5 separate regions of the Homo sapiens genome follow, and regions 2, 3, 4 and 5 are each linked to region 1. Evidence: fine-mapped expression QTL. A gene starts in region 1. Each other region holds a variant in brackets. All regions are shown on one strand. Distances are between the middles of the regions.

Region 1 (4,547 bases):
AGCACTCCCCAGGAGCTAGGTCAATCCAGGAAGACTCCATGGGGGGGGGTGGGGCTTGAGTTGGGCCTTGAAGGAAGCATAGGAGTTAGAACACATGAAAGGAAAGAGGATACTCTATGTTACTTTATTTATTTACTTATTTTGAGATGGAGTCTCACTCTGTCGCCCAGGCTGGAGTGCAATGGCGCAATCTCAGCTCACTGCAACCTCCGCCTCCTGGGTTCAAGCGATTCTCCTGCCTCAGCCTCCTGAGTAGCTAGGATTATAGGCACCCGTCTTCATGCTCTGCTAATTTTTTACTGTATGTTACTTTATTTGAGATTATTATAGTGATGCCTGCTTCCAACAGCCTGAAGGGGTGCTGATGTGGCTGCCCCGCTAGAAGCCTCTGTAGCCCAGGTGTTGGAGTGTGAGGGTAATGACCAGGTTCTCAGACTCACAAAAGAAACAGTTTGTGTCACAGTAGCCCTTCCAAAAACAAGATTTGACCTAAGGGATTCTATTGTGTGTTTTAAATAAGAAATCTCAAGTATTTCTTGCAAACCTTTGTGATCTATCCCTTTCACACTTCTGATAAAATTCCAAATGATAGTGTTCAGTATAAGAAATTGGGTTCTTCCTAACCTCACTCTTTCCCCAGTGACAATAAAAGTCACCTCGACTCAAATGATTGTGGCCCTAAAAGCCCATATTTCTGGGGGAAATCTGAAATGTTTACTTCAAGTGACAGTCTGAACTGCTCATGGCCCACTTCACATTCACAGGTCATCCTGCCCTCTGCTGAGTTGAAAAGCCCAAGATAGAAGAGGGCTCAATATTAGGAAACCCAGTTATTTATTTATCTTATTAGCAGATCGAAGAGGAAAATTAAATGGTCATTTTCATAGATCTTGAAAAAGCGTTTGATTTAAAAATCCATTTTTATTTAGAAATAAGTACTTGAATATTCTTACATTTAGTTTTATTATATTTTTATTTAGAAATAAATACTGTAATATTCTTATATTAATAAGAATAAAAGCCACCTCCTTAACATATAAAACATTTCTCTCTCACACCAAAAGTTAACATCATGCTTAATGGGAAACAAGACAGGAATTTACACTCTTGTCATTATTTAATAATGGTCAGAATGTCCAGGCCTGGCAGTTAGATAAGAAAAAAATAGGAGCTATAGACATAGGAGAAGAAGAATATAAATGTTCATTTTTTCAAACGTGGAAAATTCATGAGAATCACCTGAAAAACCATGCCAAATAATAAGATAATTTGTTAACAGATTTCCATACATCATACAATAATCAGTTGAAAGATGTAGGGAAGAAGAGATTCCATTTACAAATGTAAAAAAAGAAAAAGTAAAAGAACTAGAAATAACCATAATAAGAATGTACCAAATCTATATGAAGGAAACCTCAAAATACTCCTAAGAAAAACAAATGAAGACTCAAACAAGTATCTAGAACCCTGTTCTTGGATTAGGAAGACTCAAGATCATAAATAATACTCACTAACATTTACTAAGCATTTACTATGTACTCAGACACTCTTCTAAGTATTTTACTACATAACTTGTCAAAGATGTAAATTATCCCTAAATTAATTTGCAAATTTAACATAAATTCAATATATTATGCATATACTACCTATTCAGAAATAAAATTTAATTTTAAAATCTCAATTTCAATAATCCAAGCTGACATTAAAAAGATCATCTAAGATTCTTGATGCCCTTGAATGAGGAAGAGAGAGTAAAATGATCACTAGCTTGAGTCTTTGACCCTTCTATCAGAAGGTGTTTTCTTTGCTCAAGAGGAAGACACCCCCTCAGTAACTCACTTTCCTCAAAGGATCACTTGTCAACCTCAAGTTGCCCTACGAGCCTCCAGAAAAGGGCCAGAATCTCCACAAAGACTCACTTGACATACTCACAAAGCTCTGCTATGAACACTATTTTCCCAACCTTAAATCTCAGGAGGACTACCAAATGCAGGCCAGTTAACCCAAGAGGGAAAGTGAAGTCTACACCAACATAGATTAGATTAGGCTCTTTAAGCATCTCTCTTTTCCAGGGCTCCTACCTGGTCCCCCAGGGCTCCCTGGAGCGGCATCACCTCATTCATTACTGCAGCTAAGCCCTCAATTGAACAAGCCTCCCAGGGGCAATTTCCTTTCTGGGGGACATTGTCATTCAATGGTATTATGCAGACCAAGTAGGCAAGCAAGGTTCCAAAGCAAAATTGAGTTCCTACCTGACATGGCACCCAGGAGAGCCAGGAGAATGATTGCTTCCTGCATACTTGATGGTCACAACTGTGCGTGCTTCCAGCACATTAGCCACAGCCTGAATCCCGTCTCACACCCAAAGTTTATTCCAGAAGCCACTCAGCTTCCCCTCCTGGTTTTGTTGCCATGCAAGAAATCAAACAGAGGCTTTGGCGGTAGCCAAGGGAGACTCCAAACACCACAGGACTGTTTGTTCTTTGATTACCTGCTTCTGTGACTGCATAGCACCCAAGAGACCAACCAGCCAGTCCTGGTCAGCTCAGAGTTTACCTTAAAAGTCCACACTCACCAAGTGTCTCAACCAAGAGCTCCAAAAGAGAAGTCAAAAGAGAAAACCGAGACACGGAGACCACACTAAGAGCTGGACGTGCGTAGTCCACCCATGATGGTCTCGGTCGCCCTGTAGCCAGGCTTGTGGTCATTTCCAGAAACAGGGGTGGGAAGTGGGAGTTTTTCTGCTGTCCTGAATCAATGAGTAGGATTCAGACTTGGGAATTAACTGGCACTCGTTCTAAAGACAAGATCTGAGAGCTGGGAGCAGACCCCTCCTCGAGGCTGACTTGAGGTGGAAGACTGCCCTCTGACTCCACCCCCCACCACCGCCCCTCCAGCCCTCGAAGAAGGCTGTGAAGGAAGGTTACTGGAGTGGTGAGGCTTCTGCCCACTGGGGAGTGATGCAGGTCTTGCCCTTCACGATGCCTTTCTGTTCCACACAGCCCTGTGCCAGGGCACAAGATGTGGCATGTGAACAAACGCGGGCTGGGGTCTAGTCTCCACTGAGAAGGAGCAACAGCAGAGCAGAGAGAGAACGGCCGAGCAGTGGCCTGTCCCCTTGACATGGTGCAGTAAGAGAAGTAGTGGGCACAGTGGAAGGCAGCTGGGCTTGGACCACCTCTCCCATTCCTCTGCCAGCTAGGGGAGGAGAGGCCAGCAGCCCAAGGCTGGGGGCAGGAATGCAGTGAAGAAGGTGGGGAGTTGAGTCAGAGCCTCCCAGTCTGGACGAGACCCCACAGGCGCTCTGAAAACTACACATGCCCCACAGGTGAACCAGCTTTTAGCACCTGCTACACGGAGGTCACCAACGAGGGATAGAGGGAGACAGTGTTATGGAACCAAACTGGGTCCACTCACCCTGTGCAGTAAAACCGGATATCCACACCGAGGTTTTTGCAGCAATAGAAAGGAAGGCATTTATTTGCAAGGGTGCCAAGCAAGAAGGGCTCAGAGAGTGAGGGGTTTGACCCAGGCTGCGCCACCTGCCAGTGTCCCCTGTGTCCCCTGCGTCCCAAACCTAGGGTGGCAAGGCTGCCCTTCCCTTCCACCACATCCAAACATTTGACAAGCCCTTTCCAGCCTCCAGGGCCTGCTGCCGGGCCCCTTCCCATGCTTGTTGCTACTGCCCTGGCTTAAGGTCCTTGCCTCTGGCCTGGGCTCTGGCCCGCAGCACATCCTACAGAAACTTAGGTTAATTTCCCCAAAGTACAATTTTGGTCATTTACTTTCCTGCTCAAAATAACAAGAACCTTTCCCTTAAGAAAAGTTGACTTTTCTTGTGTAAAGCATGAAGGAAAGGTAGTAAGATTAGGAAAGCTAGTCGATAGGTCTCTGTTCGAAGCACATAGATAGTAACAACAACAACAAAACAAAAGGGAGTGTTGCTGTGTCACCTTTGGCAATTTACCTAACCTTTCAGAATCTCAGTTCCACTCACTTCTGTAAATCAGGGAAAATAATACCTGCTACACAGTATCATCGCAAGCGATACACAAGAGAAAGAAGTGAAAGAAACTGGCCCATACTATGTGTTTTAAAAATACTTTTTTTTTTTTTTTTTTTTTTTTTGGAGACAGGATCTCACTGTCACTCTGTCTCCCAGGCTAGAGTGTAGCAGCGCGATCATAGCTCATTACAGCCTCAATCTCCTGGACTCAAGCAATCCGCCCACCTCAGCCTCTGGAGCAGCTGGGACCACAGGCGTGCACCACCACACCAGGCTAATTAAAAAAATTTTTTTTTTAGAGAGGACGTCTCCCTATGTTGCCCAAACTGGTCTCAAACTTCTGGGCTCAAGCGATTCTCCCACCTCCGCCTCCCGAAGTGTTGATATTACAGGCATGTGCCACACTATTTTTTCCTAATAGGACCCTGGCAAGGGCTGAAACATAGTAGGTACTCAATATATATTGGCCAAATAAAAAGAAAAATAAACAACAGTTGCCAAGCTACCAATTCTCACCTCTCAGTTTTTCCTGTCATGTGAG
Region 2 (4,547 bases), 51 kb after region 1:
TTAAAACCAAAGTCACAAATAATCTGCCCCCCCGCCCCGCCCCCACAATGGAAGCCTATGACCCATTTTGTTTTCATGTAACTCGGTCTTGGATAAAACAGGAGACAGAGAGAGAGATGTCAAGATGTTACAGCCAAAGAAGGAAACAGAGGAGAGATGCAGCCTTTGTTACTTTTTAATTGGAAAAAGATCTTATTTCAGACAGCAAGACATTTAAGAAAGCCATTAATTGTTTGTTGCTGTCACCAATGAGAAAAAGGTGAACAGGTAGGAAGCAGAGTTATAAAATTAGCTATCTTTAAAAGTTGAGGAGGAGTCCTTACTTCTAGCAGAGGCAGGTTACTGTATTAAATACTAATAAAGTATCAGTTAACAACGACTTCTCTAGTCCTCTTTACTGGTTAATCTCTTAGTTCTAATAAGATACTGCTTTATTGTCAGGGCACAGTTTCCTAACCTTTGTGCAGAGGACATTTAAGGAATCTAAGAATGCAAATATGCACCAAATAGGTGTAGCCGGATAAATTGGTCTCAAGCATATTTTTTAATTGCTGTTTTTGAAATTTATGTAGACATTATTGAAATTAAAATACGTATTTAAAAAGCATTACTGAATTCACAGCACCTTTTCATCGGCACACACTGTCCCAATCAATGGGTACCAAAGTACAAGTAGTATCACCTGGACATGCATGACCCTTTTCCTGCTGGAAAGAGTGAAAGCTAAGCTCAATAGTTTAGGAAGAGCCTATTTGTGTTCTTTGTCCTCCCATGAGCACTACAAATAGCTTTTCCTTAGTTCATATTGAGCTGGCTTTTCAGGAGCAGACAGGAAATCAGATGGGAGTGCAGGGAGAGACTGGGAGAAAAGAGCAATGATTTAGCTGCTCTTCTCGTTGTGTGGGAGAGGTCTACTTCCCACCTAGGAAAATCTTCATACATTTTTTTTCCTGCAAACAGAGTCCTCTGGGGCTGCCAACATCAGTGAAATAAAGTGTAATTTAGTTTATCTTGAAACCAAAACAACCCAAAACCCACTGCTATTATCAAAACTGAAGAATTATTGGGAACAGGGATTCCCTGAATTATTCATTGTTTCAAAAAGCAATTATTGATTTTCTACAATGTGCAAGGTTTGTAAACTGCCCTCAAGCAGTTTACGAAATAGTAGGGATGCCACCAAAAAAGAAATGGGGAAAAAATTTTAAGCATGCTCAAAAGTTGGACACAGTAATTTATTAGTTTATATTAAATTAAATTATGTACAATCTGTAAACCCTTTTTAAATGATGAAATTCGGTGCTGGCAAGTTGTTGAAAATGTACACCCACACCCTGCTGGTAGCAGTGTAAATTGGTACAATCCTTTACCAGAGCAATTTGATACTGCACTCAAGAACCTTAAAATGTTCACACCCCTTGATCCAGTAACTTAAAGGAAATATATTTTAAGAAAATAAGTCAAGGCCGGGTGTGGTGGCTCATGCCTGTAATCCCAGTACTTTGGGAGGCCAAGGTGGGTGGATCACGAGGTCAGGAATTTGAGACCAGCCTGACCGACACGGTGAAACCCCATCTTTACTAAAAATAGAAAAATTAGCTGGGCATGGTGGCAGGCGCCTGTAATCCTAGCTACTCGGGAGGCTGAGATAGGAGAATCGCTTGAACCCGGGAGGCGGAGGTTGCAGTGAGACGAGATTGTGGTATTGCGCTCCAGCCTGGGCATCAGGGCGAGACTCCATCTCAAAAAAAAAAAAAAAAGAAAAGAAGTCAAAGGAAATTAAAAGTTACGTGCAGAAATATTTTTACTATGTACAATTTCTAATATTGAAAACTTAGCAGTCAAAAGGCTTAATAGAGGAATATCAAAATAAATTACAGTAAGGCTATTCAATCAAATACTATGTAGTCATTAAAATGTCAATAATGAACTATAGAAACATAACGAATGCTGAAGATAAAGAAAATGCAGAGTATAAAATTATATCTATGCCTTAACTGTAGTTGAATAAAAATATATTCCTTATATTATCAAAGAGTAAGGACTACCCAGAAACATGGAAAAATCCAAACTATTTTATGATTCAAAATTATAGGTGAGTTTTATCTGTTTTTGTCTTAGAGTATATCTACATCATTATAAAGCTTGGTGCATAAAAAACATCTGAGCATGAGCGCAAAAAGGATTATTATTGGGCTCACCTGTTATCACTAACTCCTGATCCAAACGTATCTCTCCCTGGCTTATGAAGTTATTCTTCAACTTACCCTCAGGTGAAGGGAGAAAACTGAACTTATAGTACGAGATACAGCAGTACCAGGACTTTCATGCAGTTTAGACTGTTTCTCCTTTCCGGTCTA[G/A]AATGAGATGGAAAGAAAGGAATGATGACTAAACAGGGTCTGACACTGGTAAAGCTGGGAAATTGGCTGCTTCATGTGTGCCTCACAAAAACCCTCTGAAATGGTGTTCTTCACTTAGGAGAAAACATGCCCACAAGGGTTATGTGGTTTGCCCAAGGAGACACAGCTAGTTGGTAATGGAGCCAGTTTTCAAATCCTGGGCAGATCTGATTCTGAAAGCCTCCTCATTCTACTCTACATCCCCTCCCAAGCAAGTATGGGAGAAGATGAAGGCACATTGTTTATGATATGGGTCAAGTCAGTTTGCACCAAAGTCATTAACTCATTTGACCCTTGAGGTTTCAGGCCACTGTTTGAAATACTGATGGTATGTTAGAATCATCTGGGGATGTATTGAAAATTTTTTTGATGCCTGGGCCTTACCTCCAGAGATTTTGATTTAATTGGTCTCGGGCGCAGCTAAGACAAGGATAAGACATAAAACTCTCCAAGGATAGGATGGCTCAATCAGGGCTGAAAACCACTGGTTTAGGCCCTTTGCATTTCCAACCTCTATCCTATAAACCTTTCAACTGGTCCCATGATGGGAGTTAAAACAACACTCCATTCACTCTTTTAATTTTTTATTGTGATAAAATAGGCATTACATAAAACTAACTTTTCTTTTCTTTTTTTTGAGACAGAGTCTCACTTTGTTGCCCAGGCTGGAGTACAGTGACACAATCTCAGCTCACTGCAATCTCCGCCTTCCAGATTCAAGTGATTCTCCTGCCTCAGCCTCCTGAGTAGCTGGGACTACAGGCGTGTGCCACCACGCCCAGCTAATTTTTGTATTTTTAGTAGAGACGGGGTTTCACCATGTTGGCCAGGCTGGTCTTGAACTCCTGAACTCAGGTGATTCCCCTGCCTCAGCCTCCCAAAGTGCTGGGATTACAGGCGTGAGCCACCGTGCCCAGCCAAAACTGACCATTTTAAAGTGTACAATTCAGTGGTACTGAGTACATTCACAATGTTGTGCAACCATCACCACTATCTGGTTCCAGAACTTTTTTTTTAATCACAATGGGAAAAACACAGTTAGTCACTCCTCATTCCTCCCCTTCCCCCAGTTCCTGGCAACCATTAATCTGCTTTCTGTCTCTATGAATTTGCGTATTCTGGTCATATGATATAATCACACAATATGTGGCCTTTTGTAGATGGCTTCTTTAGGTAAGGATCGTATTTTTTTTTCCAACCTGAAGCAGAATGGATAGCATAATGTTTTCAATGTTCATCCAGTTGTAGGTGTATTAAGACTTCATTCCTTTTTATGGGTGAATAATATTCCTTGTATGGATATACCATGATTTGTTTATTCATTCATCAGTTGATGGACATTTGAGTGGTTTCCACATTTGACTTCCATTCACTCTTCTTTCAAATCTGAGGTTCCTCAGGACACACCTTTACAAAAAGAAGAACTAGAGAGGAAGAGTTTTATAAGTTAACAATGGGACTGTAGAGTGAACCTGCGATTCGAAAGTGGGATCTCCCAACCAGCAGCACCCGTATTACTTGGGGACTTGTTACAAACGCAAATCCTTAGGCCCCCCACAGACCTACTGAAGGCACAAACTCTGGGGATGGGGCCCAGCACTCTGTGTTTTCATAGCCCTCCAGGTGACTCAGACCCAGGCTGAAGTTTAAGAACCACTGGTGTTGGCTGGTCACGGTGGCTCATGCCTGTAATCCCAGCACTTTGGGAGGTCAAGCCAGGAGGATCACCTGAGGTCGGGAGTTCGAGACCAGCCTGGCCAACATGGTAAAACCCCGTCTCTAATAAAAATACAAAATTAGCTAGGCGTGGTGGCACATGCCTATAATCCCAGCTACTCGGGAGGCTGAGGCAGGAGAATCACTTGAACCTGGGAGGTGGAGGTTGTGGTAAGCCGAGATCACACCATTGCACGCCAGCCTGGGCAAAAAGAGAGAAACTCCATCTCAGAAAAAAAAAAAAAAAGAACCACTGGTGGAACCAACACTAGCATGGGGCTCCAGCTCAAGGCGCTTTTGTGTGGCTTTCGCTCAGGTTGAGTCCGCCCACACTGCAAACCAAGCACCTCTGGAGCAGAGCAATCTCCAGCCCTGGGCAGCCTCCCTGGTAGTGCAGTCATAATACTCTCATCTGCAGGATCCAGGATGTTA
Region 3 (4,547 bases), 63 kb after region 1:
ACACTTGCTCTCTCTCAGAGCTCTTTGGCTGTCTCTGAGGAATGGCTCATTTGGGTACCTTGACTATTTCTTCCTCTTCGAGACGGTACATACTGTCGAGGACACATATATTAGATAATGGATCTGGCCCATGTTCGTCTTAACAAATTATACTGTCTCACTAGTGTTTGTTCTTCTACTGCTGGGCTAAGTGTTTGAATTTCACTTTCATTTAAGATTTAAGGCTGGACATTATACTCCAAAATCATTCCTGGCCTTTATTGATTAGCACTGATATAGTGCATCCAAACTGAAGATATATGACACCCAAGTCACACTGGGTTTTCAGGCCCTGTTTTTCATCTATGAATAAGCACACTGAAAGAGTTTTGTTTAATATTATTGAAGTTGAAGCATGTCATGTTCATTTACTGATATGTAATTCATTATGAGCAAATGCTGACTCTAAACGTGAAGTCACATGAGGTGTACTCCCTGTGATTCTATGCTATTTAGAAATGATCCCTTCTGTGGCCGGGTGTGGTGGCTCATGCCTGTAATCCCAGCACTCTGGGAGGCCAAGGCGGGTGGATCGCAAGATCAGGAGATCAAGACCATCCTGGCTAACACGGTGAAATCCCATCTCTACTAAAAAATACAAAAAATTAGCTGGGCGTGATGGCAGGCGCCTGTAGTCCCAGCTACTTGGGAGGCTGAGGCAGGAGAATGGCATGAACCCGGGAGGCGGAGCTTGCAGTGAGCCGAGATCATGCCACTGCACTCCAGCCTGGAGACTCCATCTCAAAAAAAAAAAAAAAAAAAAAAGAAAAGAAAAAAGAAATGATCCCTTCTACTAAGTATTTTTGAATATTTCAAAATACAAAAAATTAACCCCAGATAAATAAAATAAAAATGTTTGCTCTTTACCAAATTGCCATATTCCATCTTATTTGGAAAAGTCATCAATACTTCACAATCATCAATGCCAGATGCCAGTGAAAGTGGTGTGGATGGGGTATATAAATAGCAGTCATTAATATTTCTTAGAATGCTAATGACATTTTGTCTTCCCAGATAAGTCAGAGTCTGAATACATAAGTCACCAAAGCACAGTTTGTCATAGAATTCTGACATAAAACACTATCCAAGCAAGTTTCCCAAATAAACAAATTATCTGGAGTGTTTACTGCTCCCACGATCCACTTAACAGCTTCATGAGTAGCCAATAGGAAACAGCAATGGGGATCTTTCTGCACCCAGGAAATAGGTATTTGCCAATAAGAATGAGAGCAACTTGAAAGGGAGAAATTCCGTGCTAAATATAATTTCTGTGCCCATAAAACATCTAACAGAGCACCGTCAGAGGAGTGTATATTCGAGAGAATGAGAAGACAAGCTACAGACTGGGAGAAAATATTTACAAAAGACATCTGATGAAGAATTTTACCTAACACATACAGAGAACTCTTAAAAACTCAACAATAAGAATACGAACAACCCAGTTGAAAAACTGGCAAAAGATCTGAATAGACACCTTATAAAAAAAGACACAGTTTATTGTCACCTAATTCTGCTCCTGGTGCTTTCAGGGGTGAAGACTCTGTGTGAGTTCCTTGGTTATAGAGAGTCTTTGTATGGTGGCTTTCTCAGCTGCTGGTTGTAGCAGCAATGTGCTCACTGTCTCCTGTGGGGTCAGAATGGCAGAGGTCTCTCAAAGCTTATCTTGTTCTCCAGTAGTATGCATTTTTTAATTTTTTCCCTAGCACTTTATTTACTGGGTTGAACAGGTTGAGCTTCCAGCCAGAAGGGGAGGTGTCCACAGGTAAAAACCGATTGTGGTGTCCGGGCACAATGGCTCACGCCTGTAATCCCAGCACTTTGGGAGGCTGAGATATGCAGATTGCTTGAGCTCAGAAGTTCGAGACCAACCTAGGCAACATGGTGAAACCCTGTCTCTACCAAAAGTACAAAAATTAGCCAGGCATGGTGGTACAGACCTGTAATCCCAGCTACTTGGGAGGCAGAGGTTGCAATGAGCTGAGACTGTACCACTGCACTCCAGCCTGGGTGAGAGAGTGAGGCCCTGTCTCAAAAAAAAAAAAAAAAAATTGGTGGCTAAAGCAAAGTGGGTAAATGCAATACCCAATGATGGGTAGAGGTCCCAGCC[C/G]TAATAGAGGCAGCTGAGGGAGCTCTCAGTGAAATGCACGGAGGTCTTCTCAGAAGGAAGGGACGGACACCTCAGCTCCCCTGAAAGTGATCCACCTCCTAGTCACACTCCTGACCCAGTGTCCCAGCTATTCAGATCAGACAGACACCTCTTTTCATCTGCAGGAAGGCTGATGTTCCATGTTGAGATGGATTGTGACTCTACCCCTCGCGCAAGCCTGCAACTGGAGGGCACGCTGCCTGTGGAGAGGCAGCCCCGCTGAAGTGTTCAGGAAAGGCTATCCACAGGTGCACCCCATGGAACACTACTCAGCCATAAAAAAGAATAAAATAATGTCTTTTGCAGCAACTTGGATGCAGCTGGAGGCCATTTATTCTAAGTGAAGTAACTCAGAAATGGAAAGCCAAATACCATATGTTCTCACTTATAATTAGGGGCTAAGCTATGGCTATGCAAAGGTATACACAGTGGTGTAATGAACTCTGGAGACTCAGAAGGAGGTAAGGGGGAGGTGGGAGAGCAATGAAAAACTACATATTGGGTACACTACTTGGGTGACAGGTAAAATAAAATCTCAGATTTCACCACTATACAATTCATCCATTTAACCAAAAACCAACTGAACCCCAAAAACTATTGAAATAAAAAATATATATTTATATAGCTATATATAGATATATAGCTAGCAAAAAAGCATATAAAAATGCTCCATAGCATATGTCATTAGGGAAATGCAAATTAAAACAATGAGATACCCCTACACACCTATTAGAAAAGCCAAAATCCAAAACACCAACAATGGCAAATGCTGGTAAGGATGTGGAGCAACAGGAACTCTCACTGACTGCGGTGCAGATGCAAAATGGCACAGTCACTTTGGAAGACAGATTGGCAATTTGTCACAAAAATAAATAGATTCTTACCATACGATCCAACAAGCATGCTCCTTGGTGTTTACCCAAAAGAGTTGAAAACTTATGTCCGTACGAAAACCTGGATGTGGATGTTTATAGCAGCTTTATTCATAACTGCCCAAACTTGGAAGCAACCAAGACATCCTTCAGTAGGTGAACAGATAAGTAAACTGCCGTACATCCAGACAATGGAATATTATTCAGCTCTAAAAAGAAATGAGCTGTCTCAAGCTACAGAAAGACATTGAGGAAACTTAAGTGTATATTGCTAAGTGAAAAAGCCAATTGGAAAAGACTACATACTGTTAATTTCAACTTTGCAACATTTTGGAAACGGCAAAACCATGGAGAAGGTAAAACAAAACAAAAAAAAGGTTGCCAGGGATTAGAACGGTGGGAGGAATGCCTAGGTGGAACACAAACTATTTGTAGGGCAGTAAACTACTCTGTATGATACTATAATGATGGATACATGTCATTAAAAATGTGTCCAAACCCACTGAATGTACAACACCAAGAGTGAACCCTAATATAAATGGTGGACTTTGGGGGATAATGAGGTGTCAGTGTTGCTTCATCAACTCTAACAAATGTACCACCTCTGGTGGGGGATGTTGTTAGTTGGGAGTCTATGCAAGTGGGTGGGTATATGAGAAATCTCTGTACTATCTGCTCAGTTTTGCTGTGAACCTAAATCTGCTCTAAAATACAAAGTCTATTTTTAAAAGCATATGTTCAATAAACTCAATTAATATATTTAATGAACTACTTGTATGTGAAATGATAACTTAAGTTGCACATATGGCAATTTCAAAGCCTCTACACATTTGGTTAAAATGGTTATTATCCAAAGACCTTAAAAACAACTATATGCAACTCAGCTCTACTATTCTGCCCACAGAAAAATGCCACCCCCGGGTCAAACAACCAACCACAACCAAATTAATTTTGCCAAGTAATGGCAAAGGCTCAATCAGCGCCAACTCCAACTAGAAATGCCACCATATGCCTCCATTGTCCTGGAAGGTGGTCTCAGGCTCTGAAAAGCAGAAAGTAATGTGTCTCCACTGAATGCAGTCACGGAAATAGACCAAAGAAGTTTCTGTAATCCTGGAAACAAAGCTAGACATACCATTTCAGTATAAAGGGCAGATTCTGAACAGCCCAAACACTATCAAACACCATTATCAATGCCACACCTATAGAGTTCACAAGACACACACCATTTGTGGGAGGTGTAGCAGGAAAGTCCTTATGAAAAGATCAGTGCCTCTCGTCTGAAATTAAAGACATAAATGTGGGAGAACACCTTATGCAAACAATTTCTCTTCTAGAGATTAGAAAGGCATTTTCTTGCTGGTCAGAAAGATGCTACACAACTACCGTCAGCTAAAAGACTTAAAAAAAAAAACCACATAGGGAAAATAATTTTACCATGCCTCAAGAGTTCTGAGAAGTTCATGAACATCAAAATAAAAAGTGTACAT
Region 4 (4,547 bases), 71 kb after region 1:
ACTTGGGTTCTCCTTCAAACTCCATGAAGGACATCTCATCAGCTCCATTTGGCACTGCCCCTTCATGGGCAGGCTTTCACTCCAGACCACGTTATGGCCACGGCTCAGGTACTTTCCCACTCCAATCAGCTGTGGCCAGGGTGGCAGAATCCCATGGTCAGCCTGCCTTTGATAGAGCTGCGGGCATGAGAGACAAGGGTGCAAAGGCTGCTCTCTAAAGCAGGTATCTCCTCTGGATCTTCACTTTTTTGGCCAATCATCACCTGCTCCTTTGACATCTCATCATCCCAATGATAACTCCCATTCCATCTTTCTTCCAGGACACTGCCTTCTTCCTCAGTCCCCACCTAAGCCCACTTAGGCATCAGCTTCCATCAGTTCTGTGGCCTAAAAAACGGTTAAATGTAGCCACTCCTCTCCATGGCCAGCCTCCACCCGAGTCCAGGCTACCATCATCTCTCACCTGGACTCCCAAAATAGCTACCCCAGGTGCTCTTCACATCTACTTTTCCATCTTCCCAGTCCATTGCCTGTACAGCAGCCAGAGGTACCTGTTCAAAATGCCTATCTCATCATGTCAGCTTGCATGAAATTCCCTTTGGCTTCTCCTTTCTCTTGGGATAAGGACCAAAACCCTCAAGATGAATCGCAAGGCCCTGCAAGGTCTGGCCCATGCCTCCCTCTTCACTCCCCACCTGGCTCTCTGCTCTCTGCCCCTAGGGAATCTGTTCAGTCCTGCTGATACACCAGGTTCCCTCTACCACAGGACCTTTGCACTGTCTACACTGCCTGGAATGTTGAGGCTGCAAGAAAACATGTGATCTCATCTGCACTCTCACTGAGGTACATCCTGAATGGTAAGAAACGTGGTATCTATCATTTAAATTTTCCATACCTTTTGATACAGTATTTCCACTTCTTTTTTTTTCCTTTTTTTTGCAAGACAGAGTCTCGCTCTGTGGCCCAGGCTGGAGTGCAGTGGCTTGATCTCGGCCCACCGCAACCTCCACCTCCTAAGTCCAAGCAATTCTCCTGCCTCTGCCTCCTGAGTAGCTGGGATTACAGGTACACACCACCACGCCCAGCTGATTTTTATACTTTTAGTAGAGACGGGGTTTTGCTCTGTTGGCTAGGCTGGTCTCAAACTCCTGATCTCAGGTGATCCGCCCATCTCACCCTCCCGAAGTGCTGGGATTACAGATGTCATAGTGAGCCAGCGTGAGCCACCACGCCCAGCCAGTATTCCCACTTCTCTGAATCTGTGCTTTAGAAATATGACCACAGGCTATATAAAAAGGTATGTAGAACAATTGTTTGCAAATCCTTATAATAGTGAAAATGGAAACGGTATGCATTTCAACAAGATATTAGTCAAATAAACTATAATGCATCCATAGCATGAAATATTATTCAGACATTAAAAAGAATGAGGTAGATTTCCTTGTGTTCATGTGAGAGGATATCCCAGATATATGAAGCTAAAAAACAAAATTCAGACGTGTATGATTCCCCTTTTATGCTTTAAAAATACATTGCATGTATATTTTTAAAAGTTACAAAAACGTGCACAAACTGGTTGACAGTGGCTACGTCTGGGGAGGGAGGATGAATTGACAGGGCATATTTTTTCCTATGTTATGTATTTCAGTAATATTTGATATTGCTATTTTATTACTATAATTTTATAATCTGAAAAAATCTAATACAGTGAAAAAGATATGTGTATAATTAAATCTGCCATGTCTATCTTCTCCCTAGAATGTCAGCTCTATGAAGTCATCAAATGTTTCCATCCTATTCACTGTTATTTACCCCAAAGCCTAGTCAGTGCCAGGCACATAATATGTGCTCATTAAGCATTTATTAATTGAATGAATAAACAAATAATGAGCTGTTTCTGTGACCCCATAAAATGTGATACCCACTCAGTCCTCCACAAACAGACCCCTGGCTACTTCCTCCCTGGAGTTGTACCCCACAGTTTAAAAAAGTTGTAAAAGTGCTTGACTTTTTTATGGCAGTCACATCATGCTACGTGCTGACACTCAGCTTCAGGGACTTCACACCAGTACCGCACTCAAATCAGGTTCCCATTCT[T/C]GACTTAGGCAAATACTTGTTCTCAGACCCAAGTCAGGACTTCACAGTTTGTCCCTGCTGAAGTTCATTGTTTTGTTCATGCCTGTCAAGGTATTTTGAAACTCAACCCCTGACTCTAACCCAGTACACATCCTACAAGCTTTATATTGCCTGCACATTTATGATGCATTACGTTTTCTTCCAATTTAATTATAAAAAATGAAAATTGTACAGGGCAGAGCCTAGGACAGAATCCCACAGCCCTCCCTGAGCAATGATATCCCTGTTGACTTAGAGGGGTCTGGGCCTTCTGTTTGCTTCTCACACACAGGAAGCTCATTCCCATCTCAAAGCCTCTGTGTTTGCCACTCATTCCACTTGGAATGCTCTCCCTCCAGATGGTAGCTCCTTCATGATCTTCAGGACTCAGCTCCAAGGCTTTCTCACCAGAAAGGGCTTCCTACTACCTAGTCTAAAAGGATCCCCGTCCGCCATTCCACATTATCCTGTTTTGTTTTCTTTAAGGCACTTGTCAATTGCTAAAGTTACCTTGTTCATATTTTTCATTTACCTATTTATTAGCTGCTCCTTCCCCCTACCCCAGTGTCAGTGGGGATATTGTCTGCCTTATCCACTGCTCCAGTGCCTGAAGCACTGTAGATTTGAGTAGTCAGTCAGTATTTCCCATGTGACTGAATAACAGACAGAGTTGGTCAAATACCTTGACACCTACTTGCACTGTCTTCTAGACCCACGTCTCCATTTTACCTGCAAGGATGGTCCTGGGACTACTGTATAACACATTTTCTTCAAGTTTGGAGGAGTCAATAAACACAAATTTATTCTCTCATAGTTCTGGAGGCCAGAAGTCCCATACCTGTTTCAGTGAGCCAAAATCAAGGTGCCAAAAGACCTCACTCCTCCAGCAGCTCTGCAGGGAGAATCTGTTCCCCACCTCTTCCAGTTCCGGCTGGCTGCGGTGTTCCTCAGTGTGTAGCTGCCTCACTCCAATCTCCATCGCTAGCATCTTTAAACCTTTCCTGCTCCATCTTTACATCGCCTATTCCTCTGCGTGTGTCATTATTTCTCTGTCTCCTTCTTATACAAGGATACATTTAATGGCATTTAGGGCCTAACTGGCTAATCCAGAATAATCTCTCCAACTCAAGATCCTTAACTTAATCACCTCTACAAAGCCTTTACCAAATAAGGTAACATTCATAGGTGTCAAGTATTAGGACCTGATATCTTCAGGGGCCACCATTCAGCCCAACAGAGGTTATTACTCATTTTGTGAAATGCCTTTGGAAAACTGAGACATACGATGTGTCCAGATTTCTCTTTTCCACCTCTCGGGTAGGGCCTGCCACAGAGGAGAGCTCTGTAAATGCTTCTTGAATGAGTAGATGAATAGAAGATGTTGTTCCACTCTACCATTCCCCACCCCAGCCCTCAAAAAGAGAAAAGAATGGGTCTATGACTCCTTTAGCATAACTGGTTTCCCCAGTTCACAGACCCTTGAGAAGCTAGGGGGTTTCGGAAATGGGGAAGCTCTTCATAACTGGTGGCCATCTGACACGCTGCCAATACCTATTGGGAGGGATACAGAATTACTGAATGAGCAACAAGACTAAAATTATTTACAAATGAGCTTTGCCCACTACAGAGGGTGTGGGCTTTGCTCATATTTGATTTCTCTCTCTCCCCAGCACTCTGAAGAGGGTTGTATTGTAGCCAAATTAGTTCTTTGGCTACTGAATAGGAGGATGGGAGAGGGAGACCAAATGGCACTGGATAGACAGAAGGAAATTAGTTTATCTTCTCCAAATAGAAGGGACCCCTGATGCACTTCACATAAAAGTACAGCATCTTGGGAGGAGGCCAATTAAACCCCTAACAGGGTCATTTCATAATAAAAACTATTCTCAAGCCCCTGGTCTGGACCCCAGAGTTGGATCAGAAACCTGGTTCTCTGCTGTTGGAGCAGGTTATTCTACAGTTAGCATATTTATTGCTCTTTCATAATTCCTTATCAAAACCAAACATTCACTCCTTGGTGCTCATCCCCAAGACACCCCACCCATGATGGAGTTCTCTTGATGTATCTACCTTCAAAGACAAAGAAGGGGTTGAGATTCACATGTGGTTCAAGCCAGCACACCAGCATAGGAACCCAGATGCAAACTCAGGCACAATGGTCCTAGCTAGAGCAGGATGTGCACTTGTGGGGCAGGCCCTCCTGACCATGGTGTGAAGCCTGGGGACGCCATTCCATGGAGAGCTGCTTGCTTTGGGGGAGCTACAACAGGCTGTAGCATTTTCTTGACTATGTATTAGAATCCTGGGTTGGTGCCACAGTTTTCTGGAAAACACATCAGTGCAATTATAAAGCACATCAATGGGACAACATGATATATTCAGCAACATTCTCAACAAACTAGTCCCTTTGACTCCCATTATAGCCTTCTATT
Region 5 (4,547 bases), 59 kb before region 1:
CATCACCTTATTTATAGTCTTTGCAGACATCCATTAGATCAAAACCCAGAAATTTTAGGGAACTGAAAAACAACTCTAGGCCTTATTTTATTCTCTGTCTTCCCCTTCCCCAAAGCTAAAAAAAACTCCATTGGCTTTTTTTCTGCCATATCTGGGCATAACCCAGGGACGAATATAGCCATTGTCTCTCACCGAGACAGCATAAGCCACGAAAGTTGTTTTTTTAAATGCCTTGTAGGCTTTTCAGTGTTTTCTCAACTACAAGCTGCCACTGCCAGAGCAGTGGGCTGATATCACAGCAAAGCCTCAAGTTCAGCATCTGCTTCCTAGAGCTGGAGACAGATAACAAACAAGTTACGGAGGTTTCAGGATTGGAGATGTCACAATCAGGTCATGCTCTGAGCCCAAGAAAGGTGGGAACTCCTCACTCAGGAGAGCCTACCAGCTCCTCCCACAAGGAAAGTCCTAGGGTTGCCATATGCCTCCATTCACTGGGGTCATATTGACTCGAGCATGGGAGAGAGAAGCATGAACCAGCTCCTGGCAAGACTCTGAGAAGAAGCTGGCCACCTCCATAGTGGGTTCTCTAAGGTTCTGATTATCTTCCTTCTGGCATGCTGCAGGTATCAGGCTGCTGACCAGGGGTGCAGCTTCTACTAGGAGGAGGAGGAGGAGGAGGAAGAGGAGGAGGAAGAAAGGGGACAGATGAGTCAGCATAGATGCAAGCCAGTTCCTCCAAGGGGCAGGGAAGATAATCCTGTTGTCAGATTCAAGGCTCTCCCTTCCTTCTCCAGGCCAATTCTGTGATAGCACCTGGTCATTTTCTTCCTACCCTTTCCCACAGTCTGTATTTACTTTGTCAATTTGAATACTTGTTTGTAATCTATCTCCCCCTCTAGATCAGTGGCTCTCAGACTTTAATGCACATTAGAATTCCCTGAAAGGCTGATTGAAAACACAGCTCACTGGACCCCACCTCCAGAGCTTCGGATTCATTAGGTTAGGGGATAGAGTTGGGGATTCCAGGTTCCAGCATCCTTCCCTGGAGGTCATGGTGATGATCATGGTTGGGTAACCTATAACTTTAATAATCTAGGCTGGGCCTGAGAATTTGCATTTCCAACCAGTTTCCAGGTGGTGCTGATTCTGATGGTCTAGGGACCGCACTTAGAGAATCACTCGCCTATACAATAAGCTTTCTGAGAGCAGGGATCATTTTTGGCTTGTTTGCTAAAGTGACTGGCACACTATAGGCATTAAATCGATATTTGTAGATTGGATGAATTTTTTTGGAGCGGAGGTGGGGTGTAGGGTACAGATTGGTACCTGGTGATTCTTCAAAAGATGTGGGAAAGAGCACCCAGCAGTAAGCAAGCAACCTAATTTCATGGATATTGACTTGCAAAGACTCTTCTGAACAAGCAGAGAGGGGTTGTGAAGGTAGCAACTGGCAGCATGCCCATGGAAATCAGCTCCTGTGCCACAAGCCACACAGATGGTTGAGGTCTGATCTCTCACAAGTCTCTGCACAAACAACACACTCTTCTCTACCAGAACAGGAAATGTTAGTGGTTGAGTTAGCGGTTATGAGTCTGAGGTCTCACCAGATTTTTGCCACCCTGCAGCTACTCCAGTCCAGCCCATGGTTGCCATTTTTGGCAACATCCTAATACCTCAACTCTTCAGTCCACCCCACATACCTCCAGGCCGGGGAAAGAAGTCCATCAACATAACTCACAAGGGAATGTGCCTGGGGATTCCAGGTCCTAAAGCCCTTACCCTGGGGGTCGTGGTGATGATAGTGGTTGGGTGGGGAATGACTTTAATACTCAGTGTCACTGTTCCTGTCTCAACAAGAGCCTCCGCTTTCTTCCTGTCAGACATCAAGTTGTCATCAGTTACGTAGACAAGTAGCTTGTAGTCCCAGATCTTATCAAACCCACCAGCATAGTCAAAGCGAGATGTAAGCAGCAGGCGTGTGAC[A/G]TTGGAACCAGCATTGGGAGAGAAGGTGAAATGATTGTTGACGTTACCTAAATGAGATTTGATGCAGGGGTGTTGGTAAAAGGAAGAAAAGAGAGTAAGAAATAAAGGTTTAGAAGAAAACTGCATTCAATCTTTTTCTCAAATGTCCACACCTCAAGTGTAGACTGTGTCTCTGATACACCAGAGCTGGATTAGTTATATGCTACAGGCTTTAACTGCACCAGAGATGGCATTAGTACAAAGAAACTCTTGCTCACAACCAGTGTGGCTGCAAACAAGGCTGAGTAGAAAAGGACAATAGTACAACACCCTTAGCCTAGGTGCCATCTTGCTGAGTATTAAGCAGAGACTTTGTAACCCTGGTGCAGCCCCTTCTGATTTCTCATCCGGCAATTATTTGGTAACAACACGTGTAATTCACACTCAAACAAATGAGTGGGTTTCAAGAGGGTAGAATAGGTCACATCCCTAGCCATAGGCCAAGTTCACTGCATGCTTTTCACAGGACCCAGTGGGTCACACTGGTTATGGCTGTCCCTGGAGTCCTCCAAAGGAAGGTGCCTCCTGGCTTTGCGGGAATTGCAGTCCCAGGTCCTCCTGAACCCACCCCATCACACCCCCAAACACACACACAGCTCTGCTGGGGCTCATGGCTCAGCTCAGGGAGCCTGGGGCAGAGAGGCTGCCAGCCCAAGCACATGCCCGCTCATTCCTCCACTGGCTCCAGACTCATTACCGACTGAACACCAGTAAATGGAGCAGGAGATGATGCAATTTTTGCTCCCTTAACAGCAAAATGCTCCATAAAGGCCTTAGGGCTCTCAGTATGGATTGTTTCCATCTTCGGCAACTGCAGTCTCGAGGCAGTTTCTGCCCCTGGGTTTTGTGACACAGCCAGCTCGAGAGGCTTCCTACTGTTCAAGTTCCTGCTCGGCCAAGGGCACAGCAGGCAGCAGGGATGGATTTTTACTCTCTCACGTGGAATTGTTCTGCTTGTTTGGGTTTAAATCTCTGGCCCCAGCACTTCATTAGATGAGCTATTTTGGTCTAATTTCCATTGAGGGGTGCTCTTTTTTCCCTACGATGGTATATTTTTAAAGACAGAAGATGAATGGAGCAGAAGAGAATTCCTGAGGACACGTTTCAAAACGCACTTAATCTATTTAATCTATTATTATCCAGAGAGAGGACTGGGATTCCCTGCCCCCACTACCAGCTTTCAGGAAAAGAGGTGGTCGAAAAGTTGGACTGCATTTTTTCTAACAACACTAATATGCTTTATGACTCATACTGTAGTCAGGAATTGGGGGGTTCACCCTTTTCTTGGGCCTTTGGGCAGTCACGTATGGGGTCTGGGAGGAGTAAGACAAGAAGGGGAAACTGAGAGGAGTGCCAGGAAGCATAGGGGCTGCTAGATTTTGTGTCTCTGCTTTCCTCATTCAAATACTTCCCCAGCAAGCTGGGTGCAATGAGGCATGCCTGTAGTCTCAGCTACTTGGGAGGCTGAGCAGGAGGATTACTTGAGCCCAGGGGTTCAAAACTAGCCTAGGCAGCATAGCAAGACCCTATCTCAAAAAAATAATGCCCTCCCAACTCCCATCCCACTTTGCCCAGATCAGTGTGTGAGCACAGACCCCTACCCTAGACAACTTCAGGGTCCTCAGAGACAGGGCCAGGATTGTCGACACCAAGTACTATACCTGGGCCAATGGAATAACGGAAAGATCTGGGGCTGGAATCAAGGTCGGTACATGTCAGCTTGAAATTCTGAATATTTGTGCCAACTTTCAGATCCACTGGGAGGGCCAGGAAATAAGAGTTTGGAGTACAAATTGGCTTTTCATCATTTTCTTCAAGGATGTTCACAGTAACCTAGAGTAGCAAGAAGGTGGTCATTCTCAATAGCTAAAACTCATTGAGTGCTTACTGTGTGTAGGCAGTTTTCAGGCTAAGCACTTTTCATAAATTAGCTCATTTAAACTCACATGAGATAGCTAACATGATTATTCCCATTTTATGGTGAGAAAATGGAAGTTTAGAGAGACTAGGTAATTGATCTAAGATCATTCAGCTAGTGAATGGCAGAGTTGGGATTTGAATTCAGGTCTGTCCTACTCCAAATCCTATGCTATTAACTTCTACACCATATGCATGTGTGTGTGCACATTTAGTGTATGTATACCTTGCCCCCCCCCCACACACACACACATGCACCTGGACACATAGGCTCACCTGCAGATGACACCGAGTTGTTTTTCCAGGAAGGTGTGGATTTACGGTGTCTCCATGTGCCACCTTGCCTGCTGCCCCTTGTAAATGGAACTTCTTTAACTCTGGCATATGCAGAAATGGTTCTCAGCCCTGGCTCTGCTTTCTTGGGCCCACTTCAGAACCAATAGATTGGAGGGTGGGGGTCAGGGCCCTCATTGATGTTCCCTAGCTGATTCTAATATGCAGCCAGGGCTAAGACTCACTGGGACAGAACAAGCAGGCCTGGTTAAGCTGGGATCTCATCTGTAACCTGGGCTATTAGCACTGTACTAAGCCCTAGAGCTAACCTGCCA

Direction of the effects. Positions count from the first base shown, and alleles are read on the strand shown. Sizes are in standard deviations (SD) of each study's normalised expression. Not every link is listed here.
In carriers of allele C in region 3, the expression in putamen of the gene that starts at base 2,353 in region 1 tends to be lower than with G alone (small effect, 0.34 SD a copy in GTEx).
In carriers of allele T in region 4, the expression in esophagus mucosa of the gene that starts at base 2,353 in region 1 tends to be higher than with C alone (small effect, 0.27 SD a copy in GTEx).

What was found. PIP is the estimated chance that this variant, and not a neighbour inherited with it, causes the effect. A credible set is the group of variants that fine-mapping cannot tell apart.
Region 2: its variant is the best candidate, but not a certain one, in a credible set for the expression of CDHR3 in whole blood (TOPMed, PIP 0.89).
Region 3: its variant is the best candidate, but not a certain one, in a credible set for the expression of CDHR3 in putamen (GTEx, PIP 0.54).
Region 4: its variant is the best candidate, but not a certain one, in a credible set for the expression of CDHR3 in esophagus mucosa (GTEx, PIP 0.82).
Region 5: its variant is the best candidate, but not a certain one, in a credible set for the expression of CDHR3 in whole blood (TOPMed, PIP 0.60).

The regions. Positions count from the first base shown.
Region 1 is chr7:105,961,070-105,965,616 of GRCh38, reverse strand. It overlaps CDHR3 (cadherin related family member 3), which reads right to left and starts at 2,353. Exons shown (of 19, transcript NM_152750.5): 1 at 2,253-2,353. The coding sequence starts at 2,298. RefSeq lists a silencer at 2,020-2,314 and enhancers at 1,897-2,848, 2,849-3,800.
Region 2 is chr7:105,910,293-105,914,839 of GRCh38, reverse strand. No RefSeq gene overlaps it. Among named protein-coding and RNA genes, the nearest start is that of ATXN7L1, 36 kb to the right of the region's middle. The variant G/A (reference allele first, on the strand shown) is at 2,361.
Region 3 is chr7:105,897,928-105,902,474 of GRCh38, reverse strand. No RefSeq gene overlaps it. Among named protein-coding and RNA genes, the nearest start is that of ATXN7L1, 24 kb to the right of the region's middle. The variant C/G (reference allele first, on the strand shown) is at 2,147.
Region 4 is chr7:105,890,557-105,895,103 of GRCh38, reverse strand. No RefSeq gene overlaps it. Among named protein-coding and RNA genes, the nearest start is that of ATXN7L1, 16 kb to the right of the region's middle. The variant T/C (reference allele first, on the strand shown) is at 2,098.
Region 5 is chr7:106,019,681-106,024,227 of GRCh38, reverse strand. CDHR3 (cadherin related family member 3) reads right to left here. Exons shown (of 19, transcript NM_152750.5): 13 at 3,684-3,855; 14 at 1,780-2,030. Among named protein-coding and RNA genes, the nearest start is that of CDHR3, 59 kb to the right of the region's middle. The variant A/G (reference allele first, on the strand shown) is at 1,984.